4 linked regions of the Homo sapiens genome follow. The protein of the gene in region 2 interacts with the protein of the main gene of each other region in a pairwise test. Each region holds a gene or a part of one and is shown on either strand. Other genes may lie near its edges. The genes, in order: SREK1IP1, SDCBP2, ZRSR2 and ARF4.

Region 1 (7,400 bases), on a different chromosome or scaffold from region 2:
CATCTACCTAGCAGTTAATGAGTATTGCTGGATCAGGTGTCCACCTTCCAATGATGAAGCAAGGTAAGGGGTAATGTTTTGCTCTTGACACAGAGAAATTTAATAGCTTTATGTACTAAAATATAATATCTTTTAAAGATAGTGAAATTCTTCAGTTTTTTAAATCTCTAGGGATTTTTTTTCAATGTTGTAGAAGATGCAGCTGCTTAATGGTCTTGACTAGGACTTTTTAAATGAATGGTGTCTGCAGGTAGATGATCATGAAAATATCTCTAACAAAGTTTTACTCTTCTATGAAATGCAGAATTTCTAGTACCTGCCTCCTTTGTTTTTGTAATAATTAAAATACTTCTTGTATAAAGAGATTAGTTCAGCCTGTTAGTAAGTCTGCAGAGATGATGCTGAGTTGGTTGTGATTTTTAGAATAGACTCCTGGGTTGTTTTACAAATGTGCCATATTGGCATGTCTTACAGTGATACCTCAAACACAGAAATTTTTATTTAGGAAGATAGCTAAATCTTTATTAGAACTGATTTTTATTGTATTCAGTATAAATTTTATGAAGCTTGTTTCTATGAGTACTGTGGAAAATTTTATAAATGTGAGCATATATATTTATTTTGTCTGACATAATTTGTAGTTTTAAAGCAAGTTTCACACTGAACTTAACGTTTTCATAAATGACCAGTTTGGGATGTTTCTCTCTTTTACTTTAGTGGCAAACTCAAGAGTAAAAAGTGTCAAAAAAAGAATTGAGAATTTTATTCTGTACTTTTTAAAATTTAAGAGCCAGGGAGTTGCATCATGAAAGCCTTTGTATAATAATGGAAATTTTATATGGGTAAGCATTTTCAAACACATATTAGTAGATACGTTTTTTAAATTTCTATTTTCACATTGATCAGTGTTACTTTGCTTAATACTTAGGTAGCCCTTATGTCCACTAAAGTAAATGCTTATGTTGTAGAAGCATCGAACATCAACCAATGTCATGGCACAGCACCAAAGATTGCAAATACCTCACTATGGTGCGCTTAGAAATTTTCAAATTGATAACCTATAGATACGGCTGCAGGTGAATTCATGATAGTGAAATCAGCTAAGTATACTTAACCTCACAGGCTAGAAAGGTTTACTGATTCTTGTTTCACCTGGCACCCAATGTGGATACCCTCAGTAAGACTCAGGGAGCCTTATAACTCCTCTTAACATATGCTTACCCATGCTTAAATTCTAGGGAAGCTGTATCCACAGCCCTCTGCATTGCAGCCATGAGAGCTCTCACGCTTTCAACCCTTCCATAACCTAATTTAGTCATTTGGGCCTCTCAAAAGGAAATGCTTTTGTTTAAATAGGTCAGTCAGTTACTGGGAGAAAAAATACAGAGCCAGTAGGTTTTTAGGGATTTGTTTTGCCTTTGCTGCTAGTTTTTTGAAAATATTCTTCGATTATCAAGATTTTAAAAATCGGTTTTTAATATAAAGCTTTTTTAAAAACGAGGCTGGCACAAGTGCAGTGGTGTTTCTTTACTCCCACTGCTTGACTTGACTAGCCTTGAAAAAATAACAGTAAAATAAAATATTAAAAAATAATTAGAAAATGCTACAAAGGCAATGACCTTATTCCATTGAGTAAGATAGTTAAAAATGATAGTAATTGTAGTGAAATAGTTAATTACTTGTAAGTTTTATTACTGTTAATTGTAGAGATTATAAATTGGCTCATTAGGTTTCTGAATGGTGACACAATAATGACTGAGAAGAGCAAAAGTCAGTCCTCGTTAACTAATGTAGTATGCAAATTAAAATATTTTAATGATCAGTAATTTTCCCCCCAGAAATGATGTTGGCATTTCTAAGTAAATTTCCCATAATTTTAGCATAGTTTATGAAATTGAATAAAAATTTATTTTCACTGAAGTAATTTTCTTCTAATATGATATTATTATTGAGATTGGATGCAAATCTCATGAATATGTTTTAGAAGAAAATTAATGAAATTCCCTCCCAGGCAGTATGTACCAGAAGGAAAACTGAATTTAGCAGTAAAACAGTCCTGGTCATTCTAACTACCTGTATGATCTTGAACAAAGTCACTTAGTTTCCCTGGGCCTTGGTGTCTTTCGTCTATAAAATATTGTACCAGATTATCTCTGAAATCACTTCAAGGTTTAATATATATAATTATCAATATTTTAAAATTCAAGCAATATTCACTTTAGAAATTATTATAACATTCTATAATAGTAAAGGTTGAATTTATTAATATAATAAACACGTTCAACTTCTTCAAGCAGATAATTGATATTTGGTTCATATTCTTACAACCTAATGCATGTCATTTTCACCAAATGCAGGCAGAATTTATATTTAGGTTTGCATCTGGAACTAGATTATCTGGCACTTTATGGCCATTATTTTTGGGTTGATGGACCTTCTCACCACACAATTTCCCCCTTTTTTTTTTTTGCATATCATATGTTGGTTGATATTTCTCAGAGGTATCCCTATTTCTTCATACTTAATATACATCTCCATTTACATCTTTGACTCTCTGAGGTCAAAACAACAATAAATGAGAAGTAAAACAACTATATGTGTTTGTATTTACAACTGTATCTAAAATTATATAACCCTAGTTTACCTTCAGAGTAAACTAGGCTGAAGAGTTGTTAATAATGTTGATAAAAATGCCATTGAATCCTTTCTTCAACAAATATTTATTGAGTACCTAACGTGGCAAACGCTGTGCTAAGTACTGGGGATACAGAGATAAGTAAGACACATTTGCCTCCCTGAAGGACTTCACAGTGTAGTTGGTAGGAGAAACACCAGAGCATACACCGTTATATAATTAGTGCAGTAATTGACATGAACATGAGTTTATAGAAACTCGGGGTTACCTAAAGTAGTCTGGATAAATTAGAAGAGGCTACCTAGAGAAAGTAGTGACTGAATTGCAATTTGATTAAGGATAAGAATGAGGGTTATGGCAGTTCCTGACAGAGTGGGTACTGTGAACAAACACCAGAGGTAGAACAAGCTGTGTTATGTGTTTGTCAAGAATTACAAGCAATCTGGTGTTGCTGGTGTATCATAGGCGAGGCAGGAAGTGGTAAGAATTGAGACTACCATTTTAAGTTCTTAGGAACAGGAGGAAGGAGTCGTGTGTTCCGTGTTTGGGAGCTTGAACTGTAATGTGTAAGCAATGAGACACCATTAAAGAGTTTCAAGGGGGGCCGGGCACAGTGGCTCACGCCTGTAATCCCAGCACTTTGGGAGGCTGAGGCGGGCGGATCACCTGAGGTCAGGAGTTCAAGACCAGCCTGGCCAACTTGGCGAAACCCTGTCTCTACTAAAAATAGAAAAATTAGCCGGACGTGGTGACAGGCACCTGTATTCCCAGCTACTCTGGAGTCTGGGGCAGGAGAATCGCTCAAACCCAGGAGGTGGAAGTTGCAGTAAGCTGAGATCACACCACTGTACTCCAGCCTGGGCGACAGAGCGAGACTCTATCTCAAAAAAAAAAAAAGATTTTAAGGAAGGAAATGACTTTTATTAGGGTTTGGTTTTATCAATTTCATAATCCGATTAATCCCACCATTTTTAAAAGATGAAATTGCTTTCATTAGAAGGCTACATAAAATATAATTTGATTATTTTAGGCTCTATTATTAGACTCACATTTCTTTCTACAGTCTCATTATTATTTCCAAAAATTACACAGTAACCTAAATCATCTAAAAACACATAAAGCTACTGTATTCTTTATTAGATCCATCCCCAGAGTTATATGTACATGTACATACTTTGAGATGTGTTTTGTTCTTAATTGTATTTTAGGTTATTTTTGACTGACTTAAATTCTATCACTATTTTAATATTTGTTAGGTCCGAATAAACCATTTAGAATATTTTTCAGTGTACAAAATGTGCTGTAATTTAATAAGGCCCCTTGCTTTTAAAATTTGGCTTAACCTGTGAAGCACAACTGCTTCAGAGTTACAGAGAAACATACCAGTTGGTCCACTGGATGAGCCCTGTGGTTCTACCTCAGGTAACCTAGTGATAAGCTAGCTCAGCAGGGAGTGCTTCAAGGACTCCAGCTGATCCTAGTGCTGAGACCAAAACTTCCTGGACATTGGGTGCCCAAGAACAGTAGGTTTCTTATACCAGTGTGACAATAATCCCAGTTGCGAAGGCCAGTCTTCTGATCTCAGTATCTCCTCCCAACTCCTCTAAAAATAGGTAGAGTGGCAGAGAATTGGGGTGCCTCTTCTATAGCACAACCCATGATGCATCCAGTCATGCCTGACCCCACTATGCCTTTCCCACAAATTGGGAGGAGTTGGGGCAGTGAGCATTTTGCTAGCTCTGTCTGTTTCTTGCTTCTTGTGCCATTTATAGTCCTTGGCCATGAGCAACAAAAGTAGAATGGTGCCAGTGCCTTAACTAAATTTTTCTCAACCTAGATTTTCACCTGAGACAATATGGTAATATTATTAAATTACTGTAAAGATAGCAAATTTTCTGGGATACTTTAAAATCAAAGTTGTATCAAAGATCAAGAAGCACCCATAAAAGCTTTATAAACTTTCACAAAAAATAAGTGAAAATTCTTTGTTTTTATGGCCGTGTAAAATGTCATTTTTATAATGGAAATGTCTTAATTTTCAAACTTAACATATACTTTAAGCAATTTTAGTATTTAAACCTTTGCAAAATTGTATTTTTGAATGTGAAGTTCAACTTTGGCAGTAGGTTGTTGCAATAGTGATCTGGCACTATGGTGCCAGTATAGCCACATAGGGTTATTTAAATTAATTAAATAAATGAAAAATTTTATTTTTTCAGTTGCATTAGCCACATCTTAAGTGTTCAGTAGCCACATGTGACTGGTGGCTACCATATTAGTGCAGATATAGAAAGAACATTTCCATCATCACAGAAACTTCTCTTAATTCTGGTCTAGAAGATAACCTTAGTACTTGGTAGAAATTTTGACAGGCTAATGACGAAAAGTTTGTAACCCTGAGCTTTGCATGCCCAAGAAAAATAAGGTATTCTTTTTTATATATCAGACCAGAGAAGCTGTATTCAGCACATTTTGAAATGCTAGTTTTTGGCTATGGCCATACCACCCTAAATGTGCCAGATCTTGTCTGAAATGCTAGTTTCTGACTACAAAAACTACAGGACATAGTAGATATGCTCAGTAGAGCTGCTTAAAATAATTCCCTTTTTTTTTCTGTTGAATTCTGTTACAAAACCAGGTCTGTGTTATAATAGAAAACACACTTATGAATAAAAATCTTTAAAAATTATAATTTGCAGAAATTAGTTTTATTTCTAGATTTCTAGGTGGTATTAATGTGATAGCATTAGGTGGGACCAGAGAACTCATTTGTTTTGTAGCTTTCATTATACAGATTATTTAGGAAATATATCAGCAAAGGATTTTTTGTTATGCTTATCTCTTGAAACAAAATATTTATTGTACAGATTATACATTGTGATTTTTTTGTTACTGAGTATATTGTTTGTGCCCAGAAAAATCTAAAAAGATGTGGGTTGACTTCTAAGAGATTTAAGAACAAGTCACCTCTAGTTTTTAAGACAGTTCCCTTGATATTTACCTATCCAGTACCATCTCATAAGAATAACTGCCTGTAAGTATCAGAAAGTTGAGAAATGCTGGTAATGTGACATAAACTTCTCACTGTTCTTCACTGAGATAGGACTGCTTATCTTGTTATTGATAAATTATTTAATTTCTCCTGAATAATTAGCATAATCTCATGTGATACAGAAACATCTTAATTAGCAAATAAATTTATACAAAGGAAAACCAATAAAACCTTAATGTGCGTTTAATAAAGTAACTGAATGATCAAAAATGCAGCTGTGTCTTGCTTTGTGAGTGACGAATTTTTGAAAAGCAATATTACAAACCGTTTCAAGTGCACGCTTTATTTTTATTGTCCCATCTCTCCAGTAAGCATTTAAAACACAGAATTTTTAGTTAATAAGCAATGTGGATTTGTGTTGCATCCATTGTTTTTTCTTGAATTATATCATCAGCTTCATAGTATGTTTCATTTGTTGCATTTGATGCTGCATTTGAATTGAGGGCTTTGGTTTTTCCATTTGACTTGCCTGCAGATACACAAAACAAAATAATTATTTGAAATTATGACATCGTTTCACTTATAAAAATTTGCACTTAAAAATAATTTTTGTAGCAATATTGAAAATATGATGTCCTGAAAATGCTATGTGTATGAGTGAGAATTGAGTTATTTTGAAGTGGTTTTTGAGTATTTCCTTATGAAAGTCAAATAAGGGAAATAATTCAGTAATAAAAAAATTTATTTCCATGCTTACCTTTTTTCCTCCATGCTTCCATGAGGAAAATAACTACACATCTGATAAGAAGGTAACAATTTCTGAGTGACTTAACAAAAGTGTGACTGTCCCTCTCCTATGCATAAACTACACTAAAGCCAATCATAGTAACTTGCCCAACCTTAAGGCTTTGCCATTATAACTGATTTAGATGTGGTTTATTAAAAGGACACAGTAGTGCCACAATCCCATTCACTCACTCCATATAAATATGAGTCCAAAATGAGCAAAGGTGAAGGAATATGGATCTTTGCTGATCAGAAGTTAGTCTAAACAAACATAGCAAAGAAATGGATTATTCAATGAACAGTGTTAGGAAAAGTTGAATGATTGTAGAAATAATTAATGTATCATTTCACCAATAGAAAATAACATAAATACGTAAAGAACAGTGGAAGAAATCACAGACATTACTAATGACCTCAGTGTTGCTAAATGCACAGTCCAGTTCATTCTCATCTTCTTTGATTTCTTAGCAGCAGTTGATCCAGTTATTTCCTTGGCTTCCAGGACACCATTCTTTTTTACTCCCTGCTACTTCACCATTACTAATTACCTCCATGTTGCTAAATCCACAGTCCAGTGGCCAAAAACCTCTGGTCCTTGATGCCTCTCTTTTCTCTCACCCTACATGCAATCCATCAGAAATCCTTGTTGACTATACTTTTAAAATACATTCAGAATCAGACCACTTCTCACCATCTTCACTGCTACCACTATTCTGTTTTCAGCACAACATTCAAAGAGCTATTCTTTAAAAAATAAGTTGAATCATGCCCTCTGCCGAGAACCCTCCATTCACCCAAGTCTTATACAGTGGCCTACATGATTTCATACACACACCATTAACCTCTGACTTCATTTTTTTCTACTTCATTCTTTGGTTCACTCCAACCTCTTTGATTAAACATTTCAGGCATGTTCCAGCCCTTAGGACTTTTGCACTGATTATTCACTCTGTCTACTATGCTCTTCTTCCAGATAATCTGCACAAT
Region 2 (8,356 bases):
ATGGCTGACTGCAGGGCAGGGCTGCCTCGGACCCCGAGCCTGTCAGATGAGGGTCCCAGCAGACTCCCAGGTAAGGTCTTGCTTGAGTGAGAACATGGGTCTCCCACCTGAGGATCTCCTTGGTCAAATGAGCATGCCTCTTCCCACCCTCAGCTTGAAGGCCAGCGGTGTGAGCCTGACGCGTAACAGGGCCTCATCAATGCGATTCTCCTCCCCCTTCCAAGGGCTCCCAGAGACTCACCAAGCCCACAGTCACATTTGGGTTCTGGCCTCAAAGCATAAATGCCTCCCCATCCTGTGGGAGGTACTAGGCGTACCCATCCACCCTCTGGCTCCTGCTGCCTCCAGGGCCATAAGGATCCTCCTCCTCTTACATCCTCTTACATTTGCTTGTTTGATAAAAAGAGATGGGCCTGCAGACACCACTTAGATCATGGGAAGAACAAGAAATTAAAAGTCTCTACGCAAAGCGTGCCAGGTGGTCCAAACACTAACGTTATGGCCATAGAAGAGCCTCTGGCCCTCACTCAGAGCCTATTGACCTTTACATTACACATGTATGTTATCTGGTTATGTGTTTTCTTGGTTGTTCGAAAATAAATGTGAGAAGATGTGCTAGACAGGACTAGTGATGGCCACAGGTGGAAATAAACTTTGAAAAGACAAACGATCTCAAGAAGTGTGGCTGGCTGGGACAAACCCAGTTCTGAAGAACCTCACGACCCCATGGATTTCTGAATAACGATTTTCTAAAACATTCCTAAACTACTGAACATGATCCACTATACCAAAAAAAGTGCCATACAGAGCAAGGAGGTGTCCATGCAGCCAGCAATAGCTATTATGTATTAAGCACCTGCTATGTGCCTGGCACTGTGCTCAGAGCTCTAGGTACACTGTCTTTTTTTTTTTTTTTTGGAGACAGGGTCTCTCTCTGTTGCCCAGGCTGGAGTGCAGTGGCATGATCATAGCTCACTGCATCCTTGACCTCCCAGGCTCAATTAGTCCTCCCACCTCAGCCTCCTGAGTAGCTAGGACTACAGGTGTGCACCACCACGCTTGGCTAATTTTTTAGTTTTTTTTGTGGAAAGAGGGTTTCACATTGCCCAGGCTGGTCTCGTGCTCCTGGACTTAGTGATCCTCCTGCTTTGGCCTCTCAAAGCACTGGGATTACAGACGTGAGTCACCGCACCCAGCCCTACGAACACCGTCTTACTGAACCCTCACAGCAACCTTAGGAAGAGGATGCTGAGGCTCAGGTGGGGTAAGCAAGCTGCCCAAAGACCTGAGCCCTCCCACCACCCGGCAGTCCCTCCCTGGTGCGGCCACCAGCCTACCTTCAGCCCGATAACATTCTGCCCGTCCACCTCACACACGTAGTGGTTGGTGAGGAGCCCGTTGCGGGCCGCAGAACTCCCTTTGACCAGAGAGACAATCTTCCCCTTCTTGATCACGAAGCCGACGTGGCCCATGCTGTCCTTGTGCATGGTGACAGTCCGCTGGAACGGCCTGGCAGGAGGGACAGTGAGCTGTCCTGGGGACATGGCTGGGGTGAGACGGAGAGGCTGCCCGGGCCTGGCTACTCACCTGTCCCGAACCACCACGACAATCTTATCGCCTGATGCCTTCTTCACCACCTGATGGGCTTTGTGCGAGCTCCACCCAGCACAGTCACGCCCGTCAATCTGCAGGAGCTGGTCCCCAAAGCGCAGCCCCACAAGGGATGCAGGGGTGTTGGCCTGGACCAACTGCACAAAGAGCCCCTGGGGGAGGCAGGGCCCCAGAGTCAGTGTCCCTGGCCCACCCTAGGCACAGATCCCTCTTCCAACCTGTTGTTTTCCTCCTGATACTCCAGGAACCTACAGGGTGCCAGGGACACAGCTCTGCATGGCAGGCACCAAGGTTACCCCATTTACCGGGGAGGAAACACTCTAGGCCTCATAGTTAGGAAGCAGGTGAGTCAGGATTTCAACCCTGGCCTGGGGCTGCACTCCGAAACACTCCACTGTACCATTCACAAAGGCATGGGCTTCCCTGGCGTCGGCTGTCTACACCGTCGCCTGGAAGCTAGATGCCCTGGGCAGCGAAGGGCAGGTGGGGAAGGGAGGCTCCTCCGAGCGACGGAAGCCCACGGAGAGGCCAGTGGAGGGCCCTGCGCAACCCAGCACCAGCCCCGCCCGGGTCTCGGGGAGGAGGGACTGGGGGCAAGAGCCTGGCCGCTGGGGTTAGGAGGCCCGCTCTGCACCTTCCTTACTGTGGACGGGCCCTCTGAGCTCTGAGGCCTGGCGGGAGAGCGCGTGCAGCTCGAGCTCCTCTTCCCACCCAGCCCCCGCGCCCTACCTGGTCGACCTTCCGCAGCCTCAGCCCGGTCTTGCCGCGCTCGTCCTTGCACAGGTGGATCTCGCGCACCCCGGGCTTGATCTCAGCTCGCCGCACGCCCAGGCTGTACCCGGTTACCGGTGCCACCATCTGGCCGGGCCCGGGGCCCGAGACCGCTGTCTGCAGACACCAGGGGGCAGGGGGTCAGCCCGGCCCGTGGGGACCCTGTGCCTCAGGAGACACTGGGGTGGGGGTAGGGATGGGGAAAGGAGGATGGAGCCGTCCCCGGGTCCCCCCACGTCCCCAGTCCACGCTTCTCCCCTAGGGGCGAGAGGAGACGTGGCTCCACGCGGCCACTAGGGGGCGTCAAAGTCCATGCCCTTAAAAAGCCAGGAAAACGGGGAGGGAAGGGGCGAGGATACAGGAAGAGGCCCTTCATTTCCCAAGGGAAACTGGCATCAGGAAAAGCCTCCTTTAAAACCCACTTAAAATAGAAAAAGTCACAGTAAATAGTGAGCAACAGGGGATAAAAGGACTGGATTTTTGTCTTGAGAAAAATGTAAAAATATACAAATTCATGATGCAGAAAAAGGCAAGGAACTTCACTCTCCCAACACTATTAAAGATGGTACTGGAAGACCTAGCCAGCACAGTAGGCAAGAAAAGAGGGGGAGTCACACAGATCAGAAGAGAAGAAATAAAACGGTTCCTATTTATAGATGGCACGATGGTCTACTAGAAAATCCCAAAGAATCTACAAATAAACTCCTAGACCAAATAAAAGAGTTTAGCAAGGTCCTGGGATACAAAATTAACACACAAGATTCAATTGTACTTCTGTATACTAACAACGAACACATGTAAACTGAAATTTAAAATACAACACCAGGCTGGGCGTGGTGGCTCATGCCTGTAGTCCCAGCACTTTGGGAGGCCGAGGAAGATGGATCACTTGAGCCCAGGAGTTCAAGACTAGCCTGGGCAACTGTTGAAACCTCCTCTCTACTAAAAATACAAAAATTGGCTGGGCTGGTGGCAAGCACCTGTAGTCCCTGCTACTCAGGTGGCTGAGGCAGGAGAATTACATGAACCCAGGAGGTGGAGGTTGCAGTGAGCCAAGACTGAGCCACTGCTCAGTCCAGCCTAGGTGACAGAGCAAGACTCCACCTCAAAAAAAAAAAAAAAAAAAAAAAGGAAAGGAAAGGAAAGGAAAAGAAAAGAAAGGAAAAGAAAAGAAAAGGAATACAATACAATACCACTTACAATCACTCAAAAAAAAAAAAAAAAAAAGAGGCCGAGCTCAGTGGCTCACTCCTGTAATCCCAGCATTTTGGGAGACCAAGGCCGGAGGACCACTTGAGGCCAGGAGTTCAAGACCAGCCTGGGCAACAAAGCAAGACCCCCATCTCTGTTAAAAACAAAAACGAAGCAAAATAAAACCTAAAAACAAGAACAACAAAAAGAAATACGTGTAAATCTAACAAAACACATACAGGAACCGTATGCTGAAAACAACAAAATACTGATAAAAGATATCAAAGAAGACCTAAATAAATGGAAGATTCTCTGTATTCACGTGTTGAAAGAATTAGTAAAGCTGTCAATTGCCACCAAATTGATATACAGATATAACACCATTTCTATCAAAATCTCTACAAGATGTTTTGCAGATCCAGGGAAGGTTAGTCTAAACTTTATATGAAAAGACAAAGGAATTTAGAATAGCTAAAACAATTCTGACAAAAAGAATAGCGAGAGGAATCACCACCAAATTTCAAGACTTATTATATATAGCTACAATAATCAAGACAGTGTGGTACTGGTGAAGGGATAGACAAGTATCAGTGGAACAAAGTAGAAAATCCAGAAATAGCCTCAAATGAGTAAAGTCAACTGCTTTTTGCAAGAGTGCTTTCAACAAATGGTGTTGGCTGGGCGCAGTGGCTCATGCCTGTAATCTCAGCACTTTGGGAGGACAACACAGGGAGATCAGCTGAGGTCAGGAGTTCAAGACCAGCCTGGGCAACAGGGTGAAACCTCATCTCTACAAAAATACAAAAATTAGCCAGGTGTGCTGGAACGTGCCTGTGGTCCCAGATACGCAGGAGGCTGAGATGGGAGGATCGCTTGAGCCCAGGAGGCGGAGGTTGCAGTGAGCCAAGATCATGTCACTGCACTCCAGCCTGGGTGACAGAGTGAGACCCCATCTCAAAACAAACAAACAAACAAAACAACAAAAAAAGCAAATGGTGCAACCATGGCAAAAATATGAACTTTGACTGAAACCTAACTCCTTACAAAAAAATTAACCCAAATTCAATCATAAACGTAAACGCAAAACATAAAACTATAACCATTTTAGAAGAATACGAAGGAGAAAATCTTTCGGACTTAGGGCTAGGTAAATATTTCTTTACAAAGTATGAGCCACAAAAGAAAAAAAAATCAATAAACTGGACCTCATCAAAATTCAGAACTGTTAAGCTACAGACTGAGAGAAAACATAAACCACACATCTGACAAAGGACTTTAGAATACACAAAGAACTCCCAAAACACTACAGACAAGCCCCAGCCTGGCCAACATAGCAAGACCTTGTCTCTGCAAAAAATAAAAATAACAATAATAAAAGAAATTAGCTGGGCATGGTGGTGTGCACCTGTGGTCCCAGCTACTCGGGAGGCTGAGGTGGGTGGATCACCTGACCCGGGAGGTGGAGGCTGCAGTGACCCGTGATCGCACCACTGCACTGCAGCCTGGACAATAGAGCAAGACCCTGTCTCAAAAAACAAGAAGAAGAAAACAAGCCATTTAGAAAATGAGTAAAATATATGAAGAAACATTTTACCGGAAAGAATATACAGATGGTAATAAGCACATGGAAAGATGGTCCACATCATCAGGTGCCAGGGAAATGCAAATTAAGACCATGATGAGCCATCATTATACCTATCATAGTGGCTAAAATATAAAATAGTAATAATACCAAATTCTGGTGAAGACATGAAGAAACTGGAGCACTCATGTATTGCTCACGGCAAAATAAAATGGTATAGCCACTCCAGGAACTAGTTTGGCAGTTTCTTTTTGAGACAGGGTCTCACTCTGTCACCCAGGCTGGAGTGCAGTGCTGTGATCTTGGCTCACTGCAGCTTCCACCTCCTGGGCTCAAGCAATCCTCCTGCCTCAGCCTCCTGAGTAGCTGGGGCTACAGGCACAAGCCACCATACCTGGCTAATTTTTGTATTTTTTGTAGAGATAGGATTTCACCATGCTGCCCAGGCTGGTCTCGAACTTCTGGGCTCAAGTGATCCACCTGTCTCAGCTTCCCAAAGTACTGGGATTACAGGCATGCACCACCACACCTGGTGGCAGTTTCTTTAAAAAACTTAAACATACATTTGTCATACAGCCTAGCAATTGCACTTTGGGCATTTATCCTAGAGAAATGAAAACGTATGTCTATACAAAAACCTGTATAAGAATAACTTTGTTTGTAACCACCAAAAACTGGGAACAACTTAGCTATTCTTCAACAGGTTAAACAAACCCTGGTACATTCACATCATGGAATACTACTCAGCAGTAAGAAGGAATGAACTATTATTGACACACACAACAGCCTGGATGGATCTAGAGGGTATTGTGCTGAGTGAAAAAAGCCAACCTCAAATGGTCACATACTGTACGATTCCACTTATGTAACATTCTGAAATGACAAAATTATAGAGATGGAAAACAGAGGGCCGGATGCCAGGGGTTAGGGAGGGTGGCAAGCAGGCAGGCATAACTATACAGAAGCAGCCTGGGAGGGAGGTGGTTGTGGTGATGAACTAGTTCTGTATGGATTGCAGTACTGGTTACATGAATCTACACACTGATGAAATGACATAGAACTAGAGACACACTGTACTCGCGTAAGACTCCTGGTTTTGATAGTGTACTATAGCTATGGAAAACATAAGCATTGAGGAAACTGGGTGAAGGGTACTAACAACTTCTCTGTACTCACTTTGCATCTTCCTGGGAATCTACTGTTTAACAATAAAAAGTTAAAAGACATACAAAATTTTAAATTATAAAAATGTATTCATCATCTTATATTTTATCAAAATTACGGTTGAATGCATTTATGTCTTAATTATAGGAACAAAGAGTGATGACAGTGGGGCTGCCTACAGAAGGACCTTCTTTGCTTCATGTCTGCCTTTCACAGCACGACCATGAAGGGGGCCACTGTGGAGAAACACCCCAGGGTGCCATCAGTTCTTCTCAGGGTCCCACATGGCCTCATCCTTGTGGATTTCCTCCTGTCAGATCCTCGTTTTGGCAGTGGCTTTGTATGTGTCTGTGACAGTTCTCTATCATCATATCCATGAACTTCATGAAATTCCCCAGCCTTAGACAACTTTGCAGTTTGTACTTTCAGTTTCATCGGCTCAGGACGAGCCTGGCAGGAAGACTGACAGGTGGGACGCAGGGATGCTAGAGCTAACTGGCAAGGGGCTTAGGCGGGGACTGGTTCTACAGGTAAATATGTTTTCAGTGGCATATATTTCTGTGATGGTGTCTTTTGCTCCCCGAAGCCATGGAAAGCAGGAATTGAGCCTTGTTGTTTAATTTGGGGACCAGAGTTGGGTGACGAGCTCCTGCCCTCTCGGCTCTGTTTATCCATGCAGGCAGCCCTGCTTTTGATGTCCCCAGGTTCACGCTGGGCTTAATGACCTCCCTTCTCATCCAGCTCAGGCCCAAGGTCAAAGGGCAAGCCCTGGTTCTCCATCCCCAAGGCTTGTGGGAAGATCTGAAACCATGAAAGCCCACAGTGGTTTTCGTGAAGCCTCAAAATGAACGGTGCCATCAAGAAACAGAGCCAGCAGAGTGCTGGGGAGAGGGGAGGTCCGAGCACAGAGAGAAAGAAGGTCTGTTGAAATGGCAAGACCAGGAAAAAGGGAGGATTGGGAGGTTCTGCGCCCGCAGCAGGCAGAAGCCAAATACATACACTGTCACCCTCTGGAATCTGAAGCAGGCTCTCCTGGACTTCTTGGCTGGAGAGGGAAAGACCCATATAATTTTCCAGTTCTGCCAAGTTTGGGTACAAAACTGATAGGGAAAGAAGGAAGAATAAATGTGTCATTAGAGGACATGTGCTTCCCTATGCCTGCCTGGCTCCCCTGTGGCTGCTCATTTTTATTAAGAAATGGAGCCTGGGAATGGTATTTATTTCCAAGACTGTGGGGTATCCCCAGGAACACTCACTGATGAGCGCTCCTCAGAGGGCCCAGGTGCAGGGTAGGACACCGAGTCCTCATGCACCACTTTGCTATTCAACTCCACTGACTTTATTTGACACCCAGAAACCTCTGCATCCCTCAGCGAATGGTTCCCACCAGGACTGGCAGGGTCCTAATCCCTTCTTATAAGGATTTGTGTCCTTATAAGAAGAGACAACAGAGGGCTCATGCATGCGCTCTCATGCTGTATCTCTCTCGTGTTCTCGTTTTCTCTCTCTCTTTTAAGCAAGTACACTGAGGAAAGGCCATGTAAGGACTCAGCCAGAGGGTGGCCATCTGCAAGCCAGGAAGGGAGGCCTCACCAGAAACTGAATTGGCCAGAACCTTGATCTTGGGCTTCCAGCCTCCAGAGCTGTGGGAATATACATTTCTGCTGTTGAAGTCATCCAGCCTATGGTATTTTGTTATGGAAGCCTAAGCTGAATAAGGCAAGTGGGGTTCTGGCCCCTTCTCTCTTTGAGCCGCTATCTGCCGTCCACTTCTTCCCCACCTGCCCCCACCCCAGGCCAGCCATAGTTCCAGCAAGGAAGTCTGACAAGTGTGGTATTTCATTCCCGGGGTCACATGAGATTGGATCACCAGAATGGTGCTGAAATGCTGATTTGAGGTGACTCAAATCGTTTATATAGACAGAGGCCCCACAAATGATATCACATCCTCAAGGCAGCCTTGCTGGGGGCATCAGAGAAGCCATAGCTTCCCTAACTTGAGCTGGGTTTGGAAGGATAAACAGGGGTTCACCAGGC
Region 3 (8,356 bases), on a different chromosome or scaffold from region 2:
ACCTGGCCATCTACATTTTACATGGACTTATGATTTGATTCCAACAATCTCATTTTTAGTCATGTTCTTAAGGAAATAACTGGACAATTACCAAGGATATATAAGCATGGATGCTTACTGCAACTTTTTACATATGAGTGAAAAACCAATATAACCTGAAAGTCCATCAGTAGAGAACTATAAATTATAAATGAATAAACTATGAATAGCAAATAAATTATGCTACATCTGTACAGTGGGTACTGTATTGCCACTGAAATGGCTGAATTAGATCCCTGCATCAGTACTGAAATAAATGCACTATATATTTAGCAAGAAAGCAATTTATAGAAAAATATGTATAAATATCATGCCATTATAGAAAGACACACGTAAAGTACATTTACACTTTCTTTTTCTCTTTCTTAACAGTGGCTATCTTTGGGTGTGTTGCAATTATTAAAGTCTTTTCCCTTTTTACATTTGTTAATTTTTTTTGTTTTTTTTCTGTTTTCAAAAACAATTACAGGTCAGGCGCAGTGGCTCATGCCTATAATCCCAGCACTTTGGGAGGCTGAGGCAGGCGGATCACTTGATCACAAGAGATCAAGACCACCCTGGCCGACATGGTGAAACCCTGTCTCTACTAAAAATACAAAAATTAGCTGGGTGTGGTGGTGCACACCTGTTGTCCCAGCTACTCGGAAGGCTGAGGCAGGAGAATCGCTTGAACCCGGGAGGCGGAGATTGCAGTGAGCTGAGATCATGCCACTGCACTCCAGCCTGGCAACAGAGCGAGACTCCGTCTAAAAAAAAAAAAAAAAAAAAGAAAGAAAAAAAATTATAAATTAGCAAAAACAGAAGAAAAGTACTTCCATTTTTAAAAAAAATAACATCTAGTTTTAGCCCATCAACTACAGATTTAAATACTTTATACAGGATATTTTATAAGACCTATTTGGTACAAGATTTTATACAGAAGACTGGTACTGGTTAGTAAAGGTTGATAATATTCCAATAAAATAACTTCATTCACTTTAAGTGTTTCAATTAGCACTGACCTCTCTCTTTCCAATAGCTTCTCTTCTTCTAGTTGTTGTTCTTCAATAAAAGTGTCCTCCTCTTCCTCCTTCTGTGAGAGTCCTAGGGAATTTAAATGTTTTATTAAACTGAGTGCTGCAAATCCTTGGTCAAAAATTCAGGAAAAAAATACATGTAATCTTTAATGTATAAAATTATGGTAAAAATCTTTTTCTTAAACTTTCTAACAAAAAGGTCTCTGATCAACCTTCTTTGGTACAACACAAGCATCAAAAAGGACAATAGGGGTGGCAGATAGCACATTACATTTAAAAATTAATCAATGGTTCCACAATTATACTTAAAAAGGAAATTAGCTTGGCATGGTGGCAGGCACCTGTAATCCCAGCTACTCGGGAAGCTGAGGCAGGAGAATCACTTGAACCCAGGAGGTGGAGGTTTCAGTGAGCCAAGATCGTGCCATTGCACTACAGCCTGGGCGACAAGAGTGAAACTCCATCTCAAAAAAAAAAAAAAAAAAGGTGGTGGGGGTGTGGAAGGGAACATCCATCTTCACAGAAGAATGGTAACTAAAAAATGGAGAAAAACTTAAGTAGAAAAATCATCACTTTTGCAACCCCCACTGTAAAAATTTAGACAAAGACATTAAAAACATCGAATGAAAGCTTGCTAGGAAGAGTATATTCACACTATCTCAACATATCACCCCAGACATGAGGACTAATTAGAAAAGAAAAAATGCAATGCTTTCCAATGGAGCGATCTGGACACTTTTTTTTTTTTTTTTTGAGACGGGAGTCTTGCTCTGTCGCCAGGCTGGAGTGCAATGGCGCGATCTTGGCTCACTGCAACCTCCGCCTCCTGGGTTCAAGCGATTCTCCTGCCTCAGCTTCCCAAGTAGCTGGGACTACAGGCGCGCGCCACCATGCCCAGCTAATTTTTGTATTTTTAGTGGAGACGGGGTTTCACCACATTGGCCAGGATGGTCTCAATCTCCTGACCTCGTGATCCGCCTGCCTCGGCCTCCCAAAGTGCTGGGATTACAGGCATGAGCCAGCATGTCCGGCCCTGGGTGGGTAACACCTTAACCACAGTTAGCATCACCGGGAGTGCAACAACCTGATGTGAAAGGTCTCATGATGTATGCAATAAGAAGTTTACAACATCTGCTCTGTAATCCTTTGTTCTAAAGAGTGTTGTTACCTGAAGTTAATCATGAGAAGACAGAACAATCCAGAATACAGGGCATTCCACAAGATAACTGGCTTGAGTTTTTCAAAACAATCAATCCTGGTTTGGGGAAGTTTAAATATGGCCTGTATATGATACCATTGAATTACTTGCTCATGTACTCAGGTGCAAGTTTGGTATTGTGGTTCTGCGGGAGAATGTCCTTATTCTTAGGAGTTGCAAGCTGAAGAATTTAGGGGTGAGGTGCTGCTATCTGCAACTGCCATCCAAAAGGTTCAGAAAAAATGTTCTATGTATGTATCTCTTTAAATAGAGAAAAAGAAAGAAAGGCCAAACTTTAACAACTGGCAAATCTTGCTGAAGGGTTCATGGATATTTATTGTGCTCTTTTTTTCAACTTTCTGTAGATTAGAACATTTCCCAAATAAAAACATGAAAAAACAACTTTTAATAGAATAGACATTTACATCCTCTCCCATTCAAAATTTGGGAAAAAAATCAGTGAAAGTGGAAGAGAAATGGAAGACTGAAATAATCTTAAAGAAATGTTACAGATGTCAGGCTTAAAGAAAAAAGAGTCTGTTTGTCACATGTGTTGAGTACAGTTCTAACTGAAGGCTCATCCAGTCTTAGATAATTACAATAATTTACTTTTCTTAAGTAAGTAAACTTTATTATTTCAGCAGCTGGAATTAAAATGGGCAACAAATGTAGAATAAGTTCTCAATCATATAAAATAGTATCTAATTGTTCAGATAATTAAATGATCTAATGTACTTAAAGCGCCAGAGAACCTGGCACAGAGGATATGGCCTGACTACTTGCAGAGGTATGCCATAGATTAGACAGGGCATAGACACAGCTGACACTCACAAACACCTGTTGACTGACTCACTCAACTCCCCATCACCTCGAAACCAAGCTCATATACTCCACAGAAGTGATTGCTAACAGTTCTGGGTACAGCATTTTCCCCACGTGTACAATCGGACATATGCAATACATATACATACAATACAGCTGACCCTTGAACAACACAGGTTTGAACCACCTTGGTCTATTTAAATACAGATTTTTTTTCAGTAAACACACTGGAACATTTAGGGGATATTTGCAACAATTTGAAAAAAAAAATAGGTAAGTGGCATGGCCTAGAAACACTGAAAAAAATTAAGAAAAAGGTATGTCATGAATGCATAAAATATATGTACATACTAGTCTATTTTATCATTTGCTACCATAAATATAAATCTATTATAAAACGTTAATGCAGAGCTGGGCGTGGTGGCTCATGCCTGGAATCCCAGCACTTTGGGAGGCCAAGGCGGGCGGATCACCTGAGGTCAGGAGTTCGAGACCAGCCTGGCCAACATGGTGAACCCCATCTCTACTAAAAATACAAAAATTAGCCGGGCGTGGTGGCAGCCCCCCGTAATCCCAGCTACTCGGGAGGCTGAGGGAGGAGAATTGCTTGAACCCGGGAGGTGGAGGTTGCAGTGAGTCAAGATCGCGCCACTGCACTCCAGCCTGGGAAACAAGAGCAAAACACCGTCTCAAAAAAAAAAAAAAAAAAAGTTAATGCAGATACTGTTAAGCAATATTGTGCTGGCTTGAGCAGCACATATACAGATACTGTTACAATATAAGTTAAGTGTTTTATTGTTTCCTTGCTTAAAGCATTTGAAACAGGCCAGGGAGCGGTGGCTCATGCCTGTAATCCTAGCACTTTCGGAGGCCGAGGTGGACGGATTACTTGAGGTCAGGAGATCGAGACCAGCCTGGCCAACATGGCGAAACCCCATCTCTACTAAAAATAAAAAAATTAGCCAGGTGTGGTGGTGCACGCCTGTAATCCCAGCTACTCAGGAAGCTGAGGCAGGAGAATTGCTTGAAACTGGGAAGCAGAGGTTGCAGTGAGCCGAAATTGCACCACTGCACCCTAGCCTGGGCGACAGAGCGAGACTCTGTCTCAAAAAAAAAAAAAAAAAAAAAAAAAAACGATTTGAAACAAAATGATCTCTGACTTCATTCCATTCTAAGACAGAGAAGTTCGGTCTCAAACATTTTTCCTTGAATATTACTATAAAAGTTGTGCTACAACATAATCATTGACAACTTTTTTTAAAGTTAAAATTTATCAAAACTTATATTTATAGACCATATATGGCACATTCACAGTTGAGAAAAATGTAAACAAACATAAATATGCAGTATTAAATCATAACTGCATGAAATTAACTGTAGTACAAAACAAGGAAAAAAACGCATCCAATGAGGTACAGAAGGAAGAAAAAAATTAACTGTAGTACACACTGCACTACTGCAATAATTTCATAGCCACCTCCTGCTGCTATTGCAGTGAGCTCAAATACTATGAGTATTCACTTAAAACACCTTGTGACACTACTCATCTCTGCATGAGCAGTTCATCTCTTCAGTAAATTGTGTATGGCAGTAAGAAGTGATCTCTGGCGTATTTTTCACTGTGTTTACTACAAAATGGTAAACCTTGAATAACATCATGAGACTCACACAAAGTGCGACTAGCGATGCTGGAAGTGCTCTCAAGAAGCAGAGAAAAGTCATGATGGCCGGGCGCGGTGGTGCGTGTCTGTAATCCCAACTACTCTGGAGGCTGAGGCAGGAGAATTGCTTCAACCCGGGAGGCGGAGGTTGCAGTGAGCCGAGTTCATGCCACTGCACTCCAGCCTGGGCGACAGAGCAAGACTCCATCTCAAAAAAAAAAACAAAAAACAAAAAAGAAAATCACTGAGGAGAAAGGATATCTGCGTGAATAGGACGCCCAGCTACTTTTTGTATTTTTAGCAGAGACAGGGTTTCACCATGTTGGCCAGGCTGCCCTCGAAGTCCCGACCTCGTGATCCACCCGCCTTGGCCTCCCAAAGTGCTAGGACTCCAGGCGTGAGCCACTGCGCCTGGCCTGAACAGGTTTTTAATGCAGATGAAAGTATCCTATTCTAGAAAAACACCACAAAGGACATTTAGTAGGAAGAGAAGCAAGCAGCAGGATTGAAAACAAAAAGAGACAGGCTAACTCTACTGTTTCATGAAAACGTAGTGGGGTTTATGATCAGAACTGCCCTTATCTATAAAGCTGCTAACCCCCACCCCCAATCCTTGAAGGGAAAAGATCAGCACCAGCTGCCTGTCTTTTGGTTGTACAACTAGAAGGCCTGGACAATGGAAATCCTTTTTTCTGAATTGGTTCCACTGATGCTTTGTCCCTGAAGTCAGGAAGTACCTTGCCAATAAGGAACTGGATTTTAAAATTATTTTAATATTGGACAATGCCCCTGGCCACCCAGAACCCCATGAGTTCAACACTGAAGGTGTCAAAGTGGTCTACTTGCCCCCAAACACAATGTTTCTAATTCAGCCTCTAGACCAGGGGGTCGTAAGAACCTCTAAAGCTCATTACACGTGGTACTCTACGGAAAGGATTGTCAATGCTATGGGAGAGAACCCTAATACAGAGAGTATCAAGAAAGTGTGTAAAGATTATACCATTGAAGATGCTATTGTTGTTATAGAAAAAGCCATGAAAATCATCAAGCCCAAAACAAAGTCCTGCTGGAGAAAAAAATGTGTCCAGATATTGTGCATGGCATCATTGGACTTAAGACAGAGCCAATCAAGGAAATCGTGAAAGAGATTGTAAATATGGGGGGGGGGGAAAAGTGCAGGGGGGTCGGGGTGAAGGGTCTCAAGATATCTTGAAGAAATTCAAGAGCTAACAGACACACCAGAGTAGTTAACAAAAGCCAATTTGATGGGGATGAGTCCTTCCAAACCAGTGCAAGGTGATGAGGAAGAAAACTGAGGTGAAGCAGTGCCAGAAAACAAATTGACACTAGACAATCTGGCAGAAGGGCCAATTATTCAAGACTGCTTTTGACTTCTTTTATGGACCCTTCTATACTGAAAACTAATGCATTTAAACTAAAGCAAGTGGTGGAAGAATTGGTACTGTATAGAAACATTTTTAGAGAAATGAAAAAGCAAAAATGTCAGACAGAAATTATAATGTATTTCTGCAAAGTTACACCAAGTGCCGTCTACCCTCTTGCCTTCCCTTCTACCTCCTCCACCTCTTCCACCTCTGCCACCCAAGAGAGCAAGACCAAATCATCCTCTTCCTCCTCGGCCTACTCAACATTAAGACAAGGAGAATGAAGACCTTTATGATGAACCACTTCCATTTAATGAAGGGCAAATATATTTTCTCCTCCTCGGGATTTTCTTAGTAACATTCTTTTCTCTAGCTTACTTTATTATAAGAATATGGTATATAATACATATAACATACAAAGTATGTGTTAATCAACTGTTTATGTTATTGGTAAGGCTTAGAGTCAACAGCAGGCACTTAATAGTAAGTTTTGGGGGAGTGAAAAGTTATATGCAAATTTTCCACTGTGGGGAGGGGCGGGGGGCGGTCAGAGTCCCCTAACTCCCACATTGTTCAAGGATCAAATGTATATCCAATGGTATTATACAGGTTGAGCACCCCAAATCCAAAAATGAGAAATATTTTGAGTGACAACAATGCTCAAAGGAAATGCTCATTGGAGCATTTCGAATTTTGGATCTTTGGATTTGGGATGCTGAACTGGTAAATACAACGCAAGCATTTCAGATAAGGGATACTCAACCTGTACATGTAACTGTACACACAGAATCATGCTATAGTTTTGCAACTTGCTTTTAATATCTTAATTTCTGACGAGGTAGCTTGTTTCCAGTTATCTGAAGTAGAATGGATGCCAAAGAAGCTATCTGTAATTAAGAGCTCACTATTCCAGAAATCATTTGCCAAGGCACTCCAATCATTTGCCAAGGCACTCTCATAGTTACACTCAACATTCTAGCCTTCTGGGTAATGTTTACCCATCTAACGTGTGCTACAATAAACAGCAGTGTTCCTGGCCGGGCGCAGTGGCTCACGCCTGTAATCCCAGCACTTTGGGAGGCCAAGGTGGGCAGATCACCTGAGATCAGGAGTTTGAGACCAGCCTGGCCAACATGGTGAAACCCCATCTCTACAAAAGTACAAGAATTAGCCGGGCATGATAGTGGGTACCTGTAATCCCAGCTACTCAGGAGGCTGAGGCAGAAGAATCACTTGAACCTGGGAGGCAGAGGTTACAGTGAGCCTAGATCGTGCCATTGCACTCCAGCCTGGGCGAGAGAGTGAGACTCTGTCTCAAAAAAAAAAACCAGGAGTGTTCCATAGTCTACAGTATTCATGAAGTACCACTAGGCAAAGAATTGTGAGTTGGAGTGGGCAAAAGTAGGAGCAGAAGTGCAGAGACAGGTGCTTAGTCTTGGATATGCCATTAGTTACATAATCTTGACAGACCAGTGACCTGGATTTAGTCCATTAAAATGGGCTAAACTACCATGGGACATGACTCGCCTGACTCTCCACAGAGGCTCATTCTGAACACATTTTGCTAAGTAAAAAGGAAAAAAAAAATCAAAACAATACAAATACCAGCTGTTATAGGATTTAGTGCAGGAAAAGAAAAAGAGAAAGAAGTTAAAACAAATTTAGAATATATAATATTTAGAATAAAACAGATTAAATGAACAAAGTAAAGTAGCTGAAAATTTCAAGGGGGGAGAGACGAAGTACAATAAGGGCCTCAATAACTCCAACCTATTCTACTTTTCCTTTTATCCCTGATGCTTTGTTCTGCCTCTAGTGGATGAGTTTTCAACTAATAAGACAGAAATGCTAACACAGGTTGCAGTTAAACACACTGCTCCTTCCATTCTAAATATCCCAGTACTGACACTAAAATAATTACTCAGGAACACCAATGGTAAATAAAACCTCTATGGCTATGTTTCTCAAGGTCCAAGAATCCTAGTTACTTGAGGCCATGGTCTCTGGATTTTAAGAATTGTCTAGGATAATTTCATGAGCATATTCTGGATAATGCGGATGACAATCATTATAAGCCAGTACTACTGTGTGATTTCAGTGCTCCCATCTGGATTTATAACTACTACATAATTTTATAACTAAGTCCTAATTTTATTGCATTAAGCAGGTAGATTTAATACATAAATGTTAGGTTTTGCCATGTGAAGGTCAAATGACCATCTGTACAAATAAAGG
Region 4 (8,356 bases), on a different chromosome or scaffold from region 2:
AAACAAAAAAATGGAAGGTTTGGTTCTAAAAAGGAGTAGCTTTTGAAATATGGAAAGGAGGAGACATATTTGCTAAATAAATGCCCATGATAAGCCAAGAACAATGATCTTTTATATCTCTGTGATTGCATTTAATCTTTAACAAGCTTATGAAGTTAGTATTTTTATTTTATTTAGACGAGGCATAGTCAAGGATTAGATAATATATATAACAAGTAGTATAAGATTTGAATTTGAGTCTGTCTTCCCACCACACTATATTGGCTCCCAAAGCATCAAACATTATTTTTTGTTTTTGAGATGGGGTCTCACTCTGTTACCCAGGCTAGAGTGCAGTGGCATGATCATGGCTCACTGTAGCTTCAGTCAACCTCCTGGGCTCATGTGATCCTCCCTTCTCAGCTTCCTAAGTAGCTAGGACTATAGACATGTGCCACCATGCCCTACTAAAATTTTAATTTTTTTCGTAGAGACAGGGTCTTACTCTGCCCAGGGTGATCTTGAACTCCTGACTTCATGTGATCCTCCCACCCCAGCCTCCCAAAGTGGTGGGATTAGAGGTGCCATGCCAGCCAAAAGTTTTCTCAAAGGATAGGATATTTAAAGTGATGGTTTTCCAGGTGGTATAGATGCAGTGTAAAATAAAATTTAAAAATTAAGTTATGGTTTCCAACAGAGATAAAGGAAATGGACTTACAATTTGCTAAAACAAAGGAAATTGTCATTTAATGGATGTAAAATAAGTGTTAGATGCTCCTGGAGAGCCCAGTACTGTGGTAATCCTGAGAGGTAAACAGAAAATGATGTAGGATGGGGCTGGGCGCGGTGGCTCACACCTGTAATCCCAGCACTTTGGGAGGCCAAAGCAGGCAGATCACCTGAGGTCAGGAGTTCAAGACTAACCTGGCCAACATAGTAAAATCTCATCTCTACTAAAAATACAAAAATTAGCCAGGTGTAATGGTGGGCGCCTGTAATCTCAGCTACTCAGGAGGCTGAGGCAGGAGAATTATTTGAAACTGGGAGGAGGGGTTTGCAGTGAGCTGAGATGGCACCACTGCACTCCAGCCTGGGTGAAAAAAAAGATATAGTATAGTCCTTTGCCCTTAGTGGATGTAATCTAGTTCCTTTTTTTTTTTTTTTTTTTTGAGATGTAGTTTGCTCTTGTCGCCCAGGCTGGAGTGCAATGGCGCCATCTCGGCTCACTGCAGCCTCCGCCTGCCAAGTAGCTGGGATTACAGGTGTGCCACCATGCCCGGCTAATTTTTGTATTTTTAGTAGAGATGGGGTTTCACCAGGCTGATCTCGAACTCCTGATCTCAGGTGATCCACCTGCCTCGGCCTCCCAGAATGCTGGGATTACAGGCGAAAGCCACCTCAACCAGCCTCGTTACTTACATAAATCAGTAGTGCAAGACAATCTGTTATAAGTGACATGATCAAAATTGATACTTTAGGAGTCAAGGTTTATCTTTTTTTCTTTTTTATTATTTTTATTTTTGCCCCCCCCCTTTTCTAGCTGAAAATTCTATACTTTCCCATTTGAAAGTTCTTAGAAAAACAGTTCAACTAGTTGCTTCCTAATTCCTTCCATTTATTTTGTAGTATAGAATTCTAATAATGGGCCAGGTGCCATGGCTCATGCCTGTAATCCCAACACTTTGGGAGGCCAAGATGGGTGGATCACTTGAGTCCAGGAGTTCGAGACCACATGGGCAACGTGGTGAAACCCCATCTCTACAAAAAATAGAAAAATTAGCTAGGTGTGGTGGCACGCACCTGTAGTCCCAGCTACTTGGGAGGCTGAGGCGGGAGGATCATTTGAGCCCAGGGGGTCAAGGCTGCAGTGAGCCAAGATTGTGCTACTGTGCTCCTAGGCAACAGAGTTGAGACCCTGTCTGAGAAAAGAAGCTAATATTTGTATCTCTAAGAATTGATAACTACCTTCCTTTTTTTAAAGAATGTCTTACTCGATCAGGTAAATCTTGAATTTTTCTTTCTTTTTTTTTTTAAGAGATAGGGTTTTGACATATTGTCCTGGCTGGTCTCAAACTGCTGGGCTCCAGTGATCCTCCTGCCTTGGCTTCCCATAGTGCTGGGATTACAGGAGTGAGCCACTGCGCCCAGTCTTGGATTTTTCTTGCTATCATTTTCTTAAGATGTCTTCCTGATCTAGAGTTGGCAGGCAGCATTCTGAAGCAAGTTAATTTTTTCCTTCCATGATGAAGCAGATAAAAACTGTAGTGTACACACTCGCGCTATCCCACCCCCCTTTTATTACTCTGTACATGCCTTTGAGTCAGTAAGCTAATTCAGTTAGTAAATTCATGGGGTTTTTTTGTTTGTTTTTTGAGATAGGGTCTCGCTCTGCCACCCAGGCTGCAGTGCAGTGGTGCGATTTCAGCTCCCTGCAACCTCCGTCTCGGGCTCGTGATTCCTCCCACCTCATCTCCCAAGTAGCTGGGACTAAAGGCATGCACCACCACACCTGGCTAATTTTTGTATTTTTTTGTAGAGATGACCTTTCGCCATGTTGCCCAGGCTGGTCTCAAACTCCTGAGTTCAAGCAATTTCAGGCCTGATCGTTTGCCTCAGCCTCCCAAAGTGCTGGGATTACAGGATGAGCCACCATGCCTGGCCAAATTCACGATTCTTTAGGATCCTTGATTTGTTATTTTTCTTTTTGTTCCTACTTTGTGGCTATTTTGGTACCTGCACTTAAATGTGAGAGTGCAGAGGGAAGGGGAAAAATAGATACAATTTATTCTTAGGGTAGTTGAGAAAAGTAATTAATTGGTGAAGAATAAAAATTTTTTAGATTTGAAATAGCACTAATAAATTAAACTTACAAATAGTTCTCAAATCAGCTTTTAGCATTACAGCCTTAAGTTCTTACTTTTAAAGAGACATTTTCTTCCTAATGTCTAACCATTGGTACCATTTTGCTGCCTACACTGTTTCATATAGAGAGTGTCGTTTAACTGTTAAAATTTACTGAAACAATTTTTCCCCAGGGTCTTATTTTTGTGGTAGATAGCAACGATCGTGAAAGAATTCAGGAAGTAGCAGATGAGCTGCAGAAAATGGTAAGAAATATACTTTAAATTCATCATTTTCAAGGTGTGCTTTTCTGGATTAAACTGGTGGTGGTTTAGTACATTTTGACTATGATTAGATTACACAAATGGATTGGGGGGGCTAGAAATAAACTTAAGAAACTATATTATCCACAGGTTCTTAATAATGTACTTCAAAATCTCTTATAGAGCGTTTTAAAAAACACATGGAAGAGTAGCTACTTCAGTAAGTTGGGAGGAAGGCAGAGCAGTGTTGTTTTTTTTTTTTTTAGAATGCCTCATGGGTAATCTTGATGCCTATCTCTGGCTGAGGATATCTGATTTAGCTCAGTCCCTTACTTTACAGATATCAAATCTATAGTGCTGTAGTGGTTTTGACCCTAGGAATCTTGGTTCAGATGTTTTGTTCCCAAGGTCATCGGTTCCATTTTCTCTATGCTGTGCCAATAATTACTTCAGAAATGTTTTTTAATAGTAACCATTTAAGGATAAGGAATTCCTTCTGAAAGTAGAGACAAATGTTTGGTTCACAGTGGCATTTTGCAGCCTTCCCATAGATTGGATTAATGTTTTCATGTGTTCATGTTGTTAAATGTACTAAATGGAGGAAGACTGCTGAGAATCCTTGTCATGATTTTAAACTTGTAGCCATAAAATATTTACTGAAATGAAATCTTAATTCTTGTTCATTCCTCCTAAGATTAGAGGGCAGTTTGTAAAACCATTGTGCCAGTATATGTGTAACTAAGTCATTGTTGGATTTTTGCCTGAGTCAAATGTCACCAGCTTTCCCTCTTCAAAAAAAAAAAAAAAAAAAAAAGCTTGGTTGAGACATACTTCACACACTATAAATGTCATCCTTTTTAAATGTGCATATCAATGGCTTTTAGCATACATAGTTGTACAACCATCATCACAATCTAATACTAGAAAATTTTCATCACCCTCAAAGAAATCTTGGACCATTAGCAGTCATTCCCATTTCCTTCCTCTCGTACACCACACTCCCAGCCTCTGACAGCCACTAATTTGTCTTTATACAGTCACCTATTCTGGACATTCATATAAATGAAAACATACAATGTGTTCTTTTGTGACTGATTTTTTCACTTAGCATAATTTTTCAGGGTTCGTCTATATTGCATCATGCATCAGTACAACTTCTGTTCTTGGTACTTTTTTTTTGTATATTTCATGATACTGCCAACACCCAGATAATTGTGTTATTGTCCCACTGTTGTTGGAAAGGATAGAAGTCCGAAAAGAATCATCATCTATCTAAGTACTTCTGCTACTAAGTACCATAAGAACCTGCCATAAACATTTTATTCCCACATGTATTTCTTGCCCTTATCAGTCCTGACAATGGGTAATCATGAAGGCTGAATGATGAGTGATTTGCTTTAATTTAATGGGGTGTAGGATGATTGACTTGGAAAACAGTTCTGTCTTATTTGAAGGCATATGATTGTTTGCTCTGGATTTAAAAACTGAAGGATATGAGACTTCAGTTGTAAGAGTGAACTTTGTGTCGAGAAATTAGGTTAATGTTTAATAATGTATTTAATGCTGAGTAAAGTATATATAGGAAGACATTTTCAAAAATTGGATTCCGGTTGGTAGTTGTTAATGCCTTACCTTTTATTTCCAGCTTCTGGTAGATGAATTGAGAGATGCAGTGCTGCTACTTTTTGCAAACAAACAGGATTTGCCAAATGCTATGGCCATCAGTGAAATGACAGATAAACTAGGGCTTCAGTCTCTTCGTAACAGAACAGTAAGTATTTGGAGGTTGATATTAACCTCTTGACTATTAAGACTTACTAGGATAGTTGTGTAAGCTAATATTCAGTTTAAACATTTATTATCTCCTTTGGACAAATAATGAGCACATCATTTATTTAAAAATATGGTAATAAACTTTAAATACCTTATTTGATTTTTGTAAAGAAACGGAAAACTACTGTAGAATAGGTCTAAAGATTATTGATAGTTTCTTTTTTCTTTTTTTTTTTTTTTGAAGGGAGAGGTGGAAGGAATGGAAAGAAGATTATTGATAGTCTTAATTTTAATTTTGTATCTTTTAAGTAACCCTACAGCAAATATTTTGAAATCTGGCTTTCTTATTAAGGGTCCAGTAATGTTTGTTTGCTTGTTTTAAAAGTGGAGATGGGGGGCTGGGTGCGGTGGCTCATGCCTGTAATCCCAACACTTTGGGAGGCCTAGGTGAGCAGATCATCTGAGGTCGGGAGTTTGAGACCAGCCGGACCAACCAGGGAGAAACCCTGTCTCTACTAAAAATACAAAATTAGCCAGGTGTGGTTGCGCATGCCTGTAATCCCAGCTACTCAGGAAGGCTGAGGCAGGAGAATCACTTGAACCCAGGAGGTGGAGGTTGCGGTGAGTCGCGATCGCGCCACTGCACTCCAGCCTGGGCAACAAGAGCGAAACTCGGTCTCAAAAAAAAAGTGGAGATGGGGGGTCTCGCTTTGTTGCTAGGCTGGTCTTGAACTCCTGGACTCAAGCAATCCTCTCACTATCTCAGCCTACCAAAGCGCTGGGATTCCAGCCATGGTGCCCAGCCTTGTTTGCTTGTTAACATAACAGTTTATGGAGGAGACCAGGTACCACGGCTCACACCCGTAATCCCAATACTTTGGGAACCCAAGGCAGGAGGATTGCTTGAGGCCAGGAGTTCCAAACCAGCCCGGGCAACAAAGTGAAACCCTATCTCTACAAAAATAAAAATTAGCTGGGTGTGGTGGCATGTGCCTTTAGTCCCAGCTACTTGGGAGGCTGAGGTGGGAGGACTGTTTGAACCCAGAAGTTGGAGGCTGCAGAGAGCTGTGATTGTGCCCATTGCACCCCAGCCTGGGTGACAGAGCAAGACTGTTTCTTTAAAAAAAAAAAAAAAAATTTGTACTTCTCTAAAATTGCTTATCATTGATCAGTGATTCAGTGATGGAGATAAATTATCAGAAACTTAGTGTCATAGGCTTTTTACAGTAGTTTTGCATTAACCTGTAAATAAGGGAAATACTGTGGCTGTGGTAAAAAATGAAACAAACAACAAAGAACCTATTGCAGGCCGGGTGCAGTGGCTCACGCCTGTAATCCCAGCACTTTAGGAGGCTGAGGTGGGTGGATCATGAGGTCAGGAATTCAAGACCAACATGGCCAAGATGATGAAACCCCATCTCTACTAAAAACTACAAAAAAATTAGGTGCAGTGGCAGGCATCTGCAAGCCCAGCTACTCTGGAGGCTGAGGCAGGAGAATCACTTGAACCCAGGCAGCAGAGGTTGCAGTGAGCCGAGATCACGCCACTGCACTCCAGCCTGGGTGACAGAGCGAGACTCCGTCTCAAAACAAACAAACAAACAAAAAAAAACAACCTATTGCCTGTTTGAGATATCTCAGGCTGATTTGAAGAACATAAACTGGGCCGGGTGTGGTGGCTCACACCTGTAATCCCAGCACTTTGGGAGGCGAAGGTGGGCGGATCACTTGAGACCAGGAGTTCGAGACCAGCCTGGGCAACATGGTAAAACTCTGTCTCTACTAAAATTACAAAAATTAGCTGGTCGTGGTGGTGCATGTGTGTAACCCCAGCTACTTGGGAGGCTGAAGGCACGAGAATCTCTTGAGCCTGTGAGGCGGAGGTTGTAGTGAGCCGAGATCACGCCACTGCACTCCAGTCTGGGCAAGAGTGAGTACTCTGCCTCAAAACAATCAGTCGATCAATCAATAAATAAGCAAGCAACACTAACTGTAAATGATACAAGTTTTCCATGCTGTGAAGGTATGAATTTGAGCCTTTCCCCAGCCTCCTAGGTTACTGAGATTTGGTATTCAAATAATTGGCAACATGGTATACCTGCAGTGGCCTTGCAACATTAAACTGGTCAAAAAAATTAATAAAAGTAAACTATGCCTTAAATGTAAATTGTTTTCTAGGTTTTTTTTGATACTTTCACACAGTTACTAGAGATAAGATTCGTTGCCATTTAAAAGCAAGAACGTTTTGGAATGCATGAGACTAAAGATGGTGAAATTGTCTGAAAAGCTTGCCCTTAAAATATCAACAAACCCTACTCTTTCTTTCTTTCTTTTTTTTTTTTTTGAGATGGAGTCTTGCTCTGTCACCCAGGCTGGAGTGCTGTGGCACGATCTCGGCTCACTGCAAGCTCTGCCTTCTGGGTTCATGCCATTCTCCTGCCTCAGCCTCCTGAGTAGCTGGGACTACAGGCGCCCACCACCACGCCCGGCTAATTTTTTGTATTTTTAGTAGAGACAGGGTTTCACTGCGTTAGCCAGGAAGGTCTCGATCTCCTGACCTCATGATCCATCCGCCTCAGCCTCCCAAAGTGCTGGGATTACAGGTGTGAGCCACCACGCCCGGCCTAACAAACCCTACTCTTTCAAAAATTTGCCTCTTCTACTTTGAGTTTAGTTTTATGGGAAACGAGAGTTATAAAAACCAGATGGGTAGTTTATTAGTTACTAATTTCCCCATGATTTCTTTTTTCAGATTAAGTGGTAGAAAGTTTACTAAAAGGGAACCAAAAACCAGCACTGAAAAGAAAGCTGAATGAGGGGGGAAAATCTTGTCTAAATATAATGAATAGGTAGAAGTAGCTTGATTGATTGAGACGGAGTCTCACTCTGTCGCCCAGGCTGGAGTGCAGTGGCACAGCCTCGGCTCACTGCAACCTCCAGAATAGGTAGAAGTGGCTTTATTTTTAAAAAATAATTTAATCTAAAAAAGTAGAGACAAAGTCTCACCATGTTACCCAGGCTGGTCTCGAACTACTAAGCTCAAGTGATCCTCCCATCTCCGCCTCCCAAAGTGCTGGGATTTATAGGTGTGAGCCACCACGCCCAGCCAGAAGTAGCTTTAAATATGGGAGAGTTTTGTGAGATGCAAGAGGTGTGAAAAGACTCTTAAGTTTGATTAAGAAAGTTTAAACACTGGTGTTATATATTAACTTTGTTAATCAAGTATTTTCTTGTCTTCTCTTTACAGTGGTATGTTCAAGCCACTTGTGCAACACAAGGAACTGGTCTGTATGAAGGACTTGACTGGCTGTCAAATGAGCTTTCAAAACGTTAAATGAAATTGGATATCTAACCAAGGACATGTTTGATAAAATTGGTCTAGGCTTGTTACAACAAAATTAGTTTGTATCTTGGTTATTAAACAGTATCTGGGACTGGTTTGGGCAGAATATTAAACTTATTTTGTTGCCAATTATTGTTTACCGAGTATAATGTTGCTA

What was found.
Region 1: the proteins of SDCBP2 (region 2) and SREK1IP1 interact in binary tests that used the Homo sapiens proteins (3 or more experiments, as listed by UniProt).
Region 3: the proteins of SDCBP2 (region 2) and ZRSR2 interact in binary tests that used the Homo sapiens proteins (3 or more experiments, as listed by UniProt).
Region 4: the proteins of SDCBP2 (region 2) and ARF4 interact in binary tests that used the Homo sapiens proteins (3 or more experiments, as listed by UniProt).

What each region holds. Positions count from the first base shown.
Region 1 is NC_000005.10:64,716,645-64,724,044, reverse strand, and holds the end of SREK1IP1 (protein SREK1IP1), read left to right. Parts: 3' UTR 1-5,897; downstream 5,898-7,400. Other genes in the region: SHISAL2B (protein shisa-like-2B), read right to left, coding at 6,023-6,156. UniProt on the Homo sapiens protein: Possible splicing regulator involved in the control of cellular survival.
Region 2 is NC_000020.11:1,311,000-1,319,355, forward strand, and holds part of SDCBP2 (syntenin-2), read right to left. Parts: intron 7,420-8,356; coding exon 7,319-7,419; intron 2,675-7,318; exon of another isoform or gene 2,500-2,674; coding exon 2,341-2,499; intron 1,764-2,340; coding exon 1,588-1,763; intron 1,510-1,587; coding exon 1,338-1,509; intron 1-1,337.
Region 3 is NC_000023.11:15,792,638-15,800,993, reverse strand, and holds part of ZRSR2 (U2 small nuclear ribonucleoprotein auxiliary factor 35 kDa subunit-related protein 2), read right to left. Parts: exon of another isoform or gene 4,945-8,356; coding exon of another isoform or gene 4,744-4,944; intron 1,123-4,743; coding exon 1,041-1,122; intron 1-1,040. UniProt on the Homo sapiens protein: Pre-mRNA-binding protein required for splicing of both U2- and U12-type introns. Selectively interacts with the 3'-splice site of U2- and U12-type pre-mRNAs and promotes different steps in U2 and U12 intron splicing.
Region 4 is NC_000003.12:57,572,046-57,580,401, reverse strand, and holds part of ARF4 (ADP-ribosylation factor 4), read left to right. Parts: intron 1-3,014; coding exon 3,015-3,086; intron 3,087-4,728; coding exon 4,729-4,854; intron 4,855-8,103; coding exon 8,104-8,190; 3' UTR 8,191-8,356.